Linked DNA regions of Homo sapiens: all the other regions are linked to region 1. Evidence: fine-mapped expression QTL. A gene starts in region 1. Each other region holds a variant in brackets. All regions are shown on one strand. Distances are from middle to middle.

What was found. PIP is the estimated chance that this variant, and not a neighbour inherited with it, causes the effect.
Region 2: its variant is the best candidate, but not a certain one, in a credible set for the expression of SEMA4B in fibroblasts (GTEx, PIP 0.58).
Region 3: its variant is the best candidate, but not a certain one, in a credible set for the expression of SEMA4B in monocytes after LPS (Quach 2016, PIP 0.80).

What each region holds. Positions count from the first base shown.
Region 1 is chr15:90,200,195-90,202,989 of GRCh38, forward strand. It overlaps SEMA4B (semaphorin 4B), which reads left to right and starts at 1,136. Exons shown (of 14, transcript NM_198925.4): 1 at 1,136-1,541. The coding sequence starts at 1,385. RefSeq lists an enhancer at 684-1,655 and a silencer at 828-1,587.
Region 2 is chr15:90,175,605-90,178,399 of GRCh38, forward strand. No RefSeq gene overlaps it. Among named protein-coding and RNA genes, the nearest start is that of SEMA4B, 24 kb to the right of the region's middle. RefSeq lists an enhancer at 2,459-2,795. The variant G/C (reference allele first, on the strand shown) is at 1,529.
Region 3 is chr15:90,229,065-90,231,710 of GRCh38, forward strand. It overlaps SEMA4B (semaphorin 4B), which reads left to right. Exons shown (of 14, transcript NM_198925.4): 14 at 1-596. CIB1 (calcium and integrin binding 1) reads right to left here. Exons shown (of 7, transcript NM_006384.4): 4 at 2,293-2,443; 5 at 2,031-2,149; 6 at 1,870-1,958; 7 at 911-1,441. The coding sequence ends at 1,420. Among named protein-coding and RNA genes, the nearest start is that of CIB1, 3.6 kb to the right of the region's middle. The variant A/T (reference allele first, on the strand shown) is at 955.

The DNA.
Region 1 (2,795 bases):
CCTGAAAGTCGGGAGGAGAGGAAAAGAGGTGCTCTGAGGAGGCTGATTTTGGCTGGGGGTGAAGAGGAGCTTTCCTGCAATTGCAGCAAATTTATGGAGCGATGGTCTCTACTGCCATGGAAATAACTAGCAGAGGCTTTCACTCTTTTGGACTCTTAACTACAGGAGGAACTACTACATTTTTCTGTAATCCTGTGCACACTTAGGAAAAGTTGAAGTAGCTTTCCCAAAATTACTTATCCTTTGAGATTATTGCTTAGATAGTTTCTATGTTTTGTTTGTTTCTTAATGCTGTTGGGATCCACTAAATTGATTTCAGAATCTGCTAATGGTCCAGGCTGCAGTTGGAAACCCCTGGTCTCAGCAGAGCTGAACTCCACCCGTGGAGATGTTAGGAGCCAGGAGGATTAGGGGTGGGTGCCTCTGGGCTTCCACTCCAGTCTTAGGGGTTCCCTTCCCCTGCCGGGTCACGTGCAGGTTGTGAAGGTTTTACCTCCTCAGCAGTACATTAAATCCTATTATCCCACTTAAGCTAATCTTGCCCTTCCCCCACCCGAGGGCTTCGCGTGGACAGAATATTAAGCGGACAAGCCCGCAGGGTGCCTAGACTAAGTGCTGAGCTTGTAGTGAATGCCCAGCCATGACTTGCAGTGGATTGACCTGTGCAAAAATTGGACTCTCAAGCTGCTAGCCCCAGTGTCAGCACGAGCTCGGCCGAGTTCATTTGGTCGCAGGAACAAGGGGGTCGCCAGGAGCAAGAGCGGAGGGGGCGCCTAAAGGGAGGAGACCAAGGCCTAATCACCATCCGCCCCCTAACTCCCTAGGCGCATAGCGGGGACGCAGCGTGTCCCCAAACCAACGCCACTAGCAGAGGGTCCCAGAGGAGCCGGAAGGGGCCAGGGCCTGGGCGGCGGTGGGAGGGTCTGAGCAGTGGGGGCGGGGAGCTGGGGGTCGGCTTTCGTCCGCGTCCCAGCGCTCCGGCGGCCGCCGGGGCTACTGATCCCGGGCTTGGCCCCTGCGGCAGCGCCCCGAGCTGCCGCCCCTCGCGCTGCCAGCGCCCGGGAAGGAGGAAGGGGGAAGGGGGCGGGCCGGCCGGGCTCACGGCCGACTTCCTCCTTCAGCCCCGCCCTCCGCCGCTTGCGGGTGAGCTCTGCCCAAGCCGAGGCTGCGGGGCCGGCGCCGGCGGGAGGACTGCGGTGCCCCGCGGAGGGGCTGAGTTTGCCAGGGCCCACTTGACCCTGTTTCCCACCTCCCGCCCCCCAGGTCCGGAGGCGGGGGCCCCCGGGGCGACTCGGGGGCGGACCGCGGGGCGGAGCTGCCGCCCGTGAGTCCGGCCGAGCCACCTGAGCCCGAGCCGCGGGACACCGTCGCTCCTGCTCTCCGAATGCTGCGCACCGCGATGGGCCTGAGGAGCTGGCTCGCCGCCCCATGGGGCGCGCTGCCGCCTCGGCCACCGCTGCTGCTGCTCCTGCTGCTGCTGCTCCTGCTGCAGCCGCCGCCTCCGACCTGGGCGCTCAGCCCCCGGATCAGCCTGCCTCTGGGTGAGTGCCGGGGACCCGGGGACGCGGGCCGGGGGAAGGAAGGCTGCCGGGGACGTGCCTCGTGCGGAGGTGGCCGTGACAAAGGACCAAGGAGGGGACCTGTCGGAGGCACGGGATCCATTAGGACCCCTTCTTTTTTCAAGGCGCTGCGCGGAGGGAGGGAGAGGAGAGGGGAGCTGTGGGGCCGCTGGCCCCTTTCTTCAGTTTTCTTTCTGCGTAGGGATGGGGTCTAGCCCGCTCTGTCGTCCCCCCTAGTTCCCTTAGGAGGATGCACTTTCGGCGGGGTCCGCCTGCCCATCTACTTGTCTTTGATGCTGACCAGAGCCGACCGCGGTGCCGCCCCCGAGGGCGGCTCGGGGTAGAGGGAGGCCACTGCTTGCAGTCCTATAAACACTGGGGTTCTGGTATTCCCAGCAAGTCGCAGCAGGGCCGGGAGCTGTGGTGGGCGGGCAGGCGCCCGATCCTCCCTCTCCGCCCCTCCATCCCTGGCTTGCCAGTGCAGCCCCAAGCCCCAGCATGGAGAGACCTCCAGGCCCTGGGAGCGACCAGACTGCGGATGGGGGCAGCTCTGGGCGCTGACATTCCCAAGTCCTGGGAGCGAACAGACTGCGGATGGGGGCAGCTCTGGGCGCTGACATTCCCAAGTCCTGGGCGCGACCCCTCCTCAGAGTGACCTGGGAGTAGCATCCTGGTTGGCTGGGTTCCTTTCCTGGTCCTCACATCTGCTTCTGTGGCCACCTCCTGTTTCAGCCCTCCGCCCTTCCCTCTCCTTTTCCCTTCCATCCGGTTGCTTCTCCAGCTCTTCTTGGGGCACTTGGGCTTTAGATTCAGAGGGTCCTGGATCCCAAGCCCATTTCTTCCACTGGGCAAGTAAGTGCCTTCTGCTCCCAGTGCCCCACCTTTCTCATCTGCAAAATAGGCAGTCGTAGGTGCCTTGCAAGGTGTGTTACTCGGGTATGAAGTTTATAAGTGCCCAACAGATGTATCCGCAAGCCCTTTAACTTGTTGGTTGTCATATTGTATGACTTGGAATAAAGCATGTATGAATTAGAGGTTACAGACTGAAACTGTCCCAGACTTCCATCTCCTCACAGCATCCCCACCTCTAAAAGCATCCTGTTTACAAAGGGAAATAGTAGAATCAGCACTTAAATTAAGGCAGGGCCCTAGCGGCTTCAAGTAACCCTACCTGAACCCCTGTCTGAAATACTGCAGATGACCTGGGTTCAAATGCTACCTCAGCCACTTAGTAAC
Region 2 (2,795 bases), 25 kb before region 1:
AGACACTATGTGAGGCACTGGTGACATGACAGCAAGCAATCTCAGACAGACATGTCTCATGCCTTTGTGGAGTGCCCCCTTTTTTTTTTTTTTTTTTTTTTGAGACGGAGTCGCTCTGTCACCCAGGCTGGACTGCAGTGGTGCGATCTTGGCTCACTGCAACCTCCGCCTCCCGGGTTCAAGCAATTCTCCTGCCTCAGTCTCCCGAGTAGCTAGGACTACAGGCACACGCTGCCACGCCCAGCTAATTTTTTGTATTTTAGTAGAGACGGGGTTTCACCTTGTTGCCCAGGCTGGTCTTGAACTCCTGAGCTCAGGCAATCTGCCTGCCTCGGCCTCCCAAAGTGCTAGGATTACAGACGTGAGCCACCGCACCCGGCCGGAATGCCCATTTTATGGAGGAGTAAACTGGGAGGACGAGCAGAAATATCAAAAAAGCCTTAAGTGCTGTGAAGGAGGCTTTAACGTAGGAAAGTCGGGGTTGCTTTCCCAAGGAGCCTGTTGAGCAGAGACTTAAAACTTTACTGCTTGAAGATAATGCACAGCATCGCCCTCATATTGAACTGTGTTAAAATGAAGAATCTTCAGCCCCCCCCCAGATCTACAGTTTCTAAATGTGCTATTTATTTTTATTTTTTATTTTTATTTTTTTTTTGAGATGGAATCTCACTCTTGTTGCCCAGGCTGGAGTGCAGTGGCGCTATCTCAGCTCATTGCAACCTCTGCCTCCCGGGTTCAAGAGATTCTCCTACCTCAGTTTCCCGAGCAGCTGGGATTACAGGCACTCGCCACCACACCCGGCTAATTTTTGTATTTTTAGTAGAGACGGGGTTTCACTGTGTTGGCCAGGCTGGTCTCAAACTCCAGACCTCAGGTGATCCACCCACCTTGGCCTCCCATCGGCCTCCCAAAGTACTGAGATTACAGGCATTTGCCACTGCGCCAGGCCTAAATGTGCTTTTTAACAAGATCTCCCAGGTGCACAGCAGCATACATATTAGGGTTTGAGAAACAAGGCTAAGGGTGTAACTAAGTTACCAGTCTGGGTGTAGCTTGGAACCAGAGGAGAGCATTCTAGCTAAGAGCCCTGGGATGGGAAGGAGCTTGGAGCAGCATGTGAAAGTCAAGGAATATTTGTGGGTATTTGCAATTTTTCTTTTTTCCGTAAGTGGGAGAGACTTGATCATGTTGAAAAGTCTTTAGGCCATGTGCGGGGGCTCAGCCTGTAATCCCAGCACTTTGGGAGGCCGAGGCAGGGGGATCACTTGAGGTCAGGAGTTCGAGGCCAGCCTGGCCAACATGGTGAAACCCCATCTCTACTAAAAATACAAAAATTAGCCAGGCTTGGTGGCACACACCTGTAGTCCCAGTTACTTGGGAGGCAGGAGAATCACTTGAATCTGGGAGGCGGAGGTTGCAGTGAGCTGAGATCGCGCCACTGCACTCCTGCCTGGGTGACAGAGCGAGACTCCATCTCAGAAAAAAAAAAAAAAGAAAAGTCTTTAGAAGTAAACCAGTTGAGAGGGAG[G/C]GAGTGGGAGACAAAGTACAGTGGAAGGGTAGATAGGAGGAGGGGCAGTTTCTGTAGGACTGGCTTCCCAACCCCCAACCTCTGCTGCTGGCTCGAATCACCTACAGAATTTGAAAATTTACATGTGTTTGGCTGGGCGAAGTGGCTGGTGCCCATAATTCCAGCACTTTAGGAGGCAGAGGCAGGCGGATCACTTGAGGTCAGAACTTCGAGACCAGCCTAGCTAACGTGGTGAAACCCCATCTCTATTAAAAATACAAAAATTAGCTGGGCATGTTGGCGGGTGCCTGTAATCTCAGCTATTCTGGAGGCTGAGGCATGAGAATCACTTGAACCCGGGAGGCAGAAGTTGCGGTGAGCCGAGATTGCACCCTTGCATTCCAGCCTGGGCAACAGTGCAAGAATCAATCTCAAAAAAACAAATAAATAAATACTGATGTTGGTTGGGCGCGGTGGCTCATGCCTGTAATTCCAGCACTTTGCGGGGCCAAGGCAGACAGATCACCTGAGGTCAGGAGATCGAGGCCAGCCTGGCCAATGTGGTGAAACCCCGTCTCTACTAAAAATACAAAAATTAGCTGGGCCTGGTGGCACACGCCTGTAGTCCCAGCTACTCAGGAGGCTGAGGCAGGAGAATCGCTTGAACCCAACAGGTAGAGGTTGCGGTGAGCCAAGATTGTGCCATTGCACTCCAGCCTTGGTGACGGAGTGACACTCTGTCAAAAAAAAAAAAACACAACTGAAGCCTGGATTCACCCCCAGAGAATCTGATTGAAATGATATGCAGAATTGGCCAGCTCCTCCAAGCGATTCCAATGCGCAGCCAGGGTGTAGAACAATTACTTTGGTGAGAAGAAGGGTAGGAGGGGCAGGGCGGTGGGGGGCTTGCAGGGAGTAGCTTGGAAGTGGATGAAGCCTGTTAGGTACCAAGGAGGGCCCATTTACCTAGGTTCCCAATTCAGAAAGAGCTTCAGATTTAGACTTTGTATGTTATTGCAAAATGTATTTGCACCTATAGCCATTGTACTTGCGTGTGTTAAAGAGCACTGTTTTGTTGTGTCTAAACACGTAAAATAACTGCATTTCTTGTAAACAGCAATCTATCCATCCATCTATACCAAGACCACCACCCTTTTCATGAAAGTAGACTGGGTCTCTCTCAATGCAGATGGAAAAAAATAAGGAAGACCCCATCTGATGACTTTAATTTTGTTTGTTTGTTTGTTTGAGACAGGGTCTCACTCTGTTGCCCAGACTGGAGTGCAGT
Region 3 (2,646 bases), 29 kb after region 1:
TCACCAACTGGCCTCTTCACCTTCCACATTATCCCGCTGCCACCGGCTGCCCTGTCTCACTGCAGATTCAGGACCAGCTTGGGCTGCGTGCGTTCTGCCTTGCCAGTCAGCCGAGGATGTAGTTGTTGCTGCCGTCGTCCCACCACCTCAGGGACCAGAGGGCTAGGTTGGCACTGCGGCCCTCACCAGGTCCTGGGCTCGGACCCAACTCCTGGACCTTTCCAGCCTGTATCAGGCTGTGGCCACACGAGAGGACAGCGCGAGCTCAGGAGAGATTTCGTGACAATGTACGCCTTTCCCTCAGAATTCAGGGAAGAGACTGTCGCCTGCCTTCCTCCGTTGTTGCGTGAGAACCCGTGTGCCCCTTCCCACCATATCCACCCTCGCTCCATCTTTGAACTCAAACACGAGGAACTAACTGCACCCTGGTCCTCTCCCCAGTCCCCAGTTCACCCTCCATCCCTCACCTTCCTCCACTCTAAGGGATATCAACACTGCCCAGCACAGGGGCCCTGAATTTATGTGGTTTTTATACATTTTTTAATAAGATGCACTTTATGTCATTTTTTAATAAAGTCTGAAGAATTACTGTTTAATCCTGGCTCTTCCTCTTCAAGGACAGTTGCTTTTTGAGGTAGGTCTAGTCTTCTGAGTTCTGAGAGGTTCTGAACCTCTTCTTTGCAGGCTCAAGTGAGCCAGAGTCAGCCTAGCCTGGTCAGCAACGTCTCCCTGTGGGGCGGCTCTGAGGTGGGGAGCTTAACGCACTGATAGGCGGAGGCAGGGGGTTCATTGCGTTTACCTCAACCCCTTCATTCTGCATCCCCAATTCAGTTTAGCAAGGGTAGGGACACAAGGGAAGGGATGGGATGGGATGGGGGCCCTGTATTAAAGTTTTTAATTCTTCAGATCATGCAGTAAAATAGACTTTACTGATGTACGGTTCTTTACATTTTG[A/T]TGCATGCAGAGACTCATCTAACCACCACCCCAATCAGGATACAGGCGAGTCCCACACCTCCTGCTGCCCCTTCATCCTCACACCCTCCCACGGGGACAGCCAGCGTGGGTGCGGCTTGACTTCCCGCTGGCCTCTGCTCGATATGCTGCTTATTCCTAGGATGATTGAAGGCTCTTAGAAGAGAAGTCCAGTCCTTCCTCATACCAGTGTATCTCATGTCACACATAGGGTCAAACTTCTAAACCTTTATTACTGATTAGTACAAACACAAACGGAGCAATGACAACAGCAGTGAGGAGAGGCCCTGACAACGAGGGCCGCCCCTGCCCGGGGTGAGGCTGCACAGCGCCAGCTCCAGGCTGGGCCAGCTTGGCCCGCACTGGCAACACAGGCTTGACCTTGGCCACAGCTCAGCAGTAGAAAGGTTCTTGGACAGGGTGCCAGGACACACGCTGGGGCTGCTGTCACAGGACAATCTTAAAGGAGCTGAACAAGAGAAAAGCGGTGGGTTTTCTGCTGGAAGAGGAGGGCAGGGACTAAACCCGAACTTGCCCCCTTCTCCCTTTAGACCCTTCTTTGGAACGGGCTATGTTCCGTGTGTCAGCCCCCTCTGCAAGAACTCCCCGAGACATCCAGAGGGAGCTTTCTGGACCCACACACTGGGTCAGAGCTTCTAAACCTTTATTACTAATGAGTACAAACACAGAGCAATGACAATGGCAGTGGGAAGGGGAGAGGTCTTGACAAGGAGGGCTGCCCCTGCCCGGGGCGAGACTGCCAGCTTAGCCGGCCCTGTGTGTGGGGACTGGGGCTTTCTCTCACCCTGGCACCACCTCCTGTAGCCATGCCCTAGGCCCAGAGGCAGCAGGTCGGAACCTGCAGGTACCCAGAATGAAGGGGGACCACTGTCATACCTGGCAAAGTCTGGAGAACGGGAGATGACGTGCTGGAACTCAGAGAGGTTGATGGTTCCATCCCTGTCAATGTCAGACTCCTCCAGGATCTGGGAAAGGGAGAGTTTCAGGCCAGAGCCCCAACTGCTCCCTCCCGCTCCCAGGCCTGCTCAGCTGCTCACGTTGTCGATGAGCTGCTTCATCTCAGACGCACTAAGCCGTGTGTCCTCGCCCTCTCCCGTGAGGCAGTTCACCAGCCGGCTCAGGTCTTCTCTGTTCAAGGTTCCGTCATCATCAAAGTCTAGAGAGCAGACACAGGAAGCCAAAAGACACGGTTGGGAGGGGCTCTGAGGTTCCCCAAACGGCGCCCATTTCCCAAGCAGGGCCACCACAAAGCCCACGTGGGAAGGGGTGGTGTCCTGCCGGGCTGCTCCTGGTTCTCACCAAAGATGCGGAAGGCATAATGGGACTTGATGTCTGGCGTGGCTGTGTCACTGAACACACTGAGGAGATCCAGGAAGTCCTCAAAGCTAAGGCTGTCTTTGGCTGGGGATGTGGAGAAGACCCTGCAGATTCGCTCCTTGAAGGGGTTGGCCTAGGAGAACAAACGCCACAGGACGTGGCCCAGGTCACACGCTCATTAAAGCCTACCAGAAACTTGAGAGAGCAGGTCACAGGACCAGCACCAGCGAGCTCAGCCTCGTGGGGGTGAACAGTCAGTGCTTTGGGGCCAACATGGAGGGCAGTGGGGGCACAGGAAAGCAAACTGACCCAGCTGGGGAAGGGACTGAGATGGCT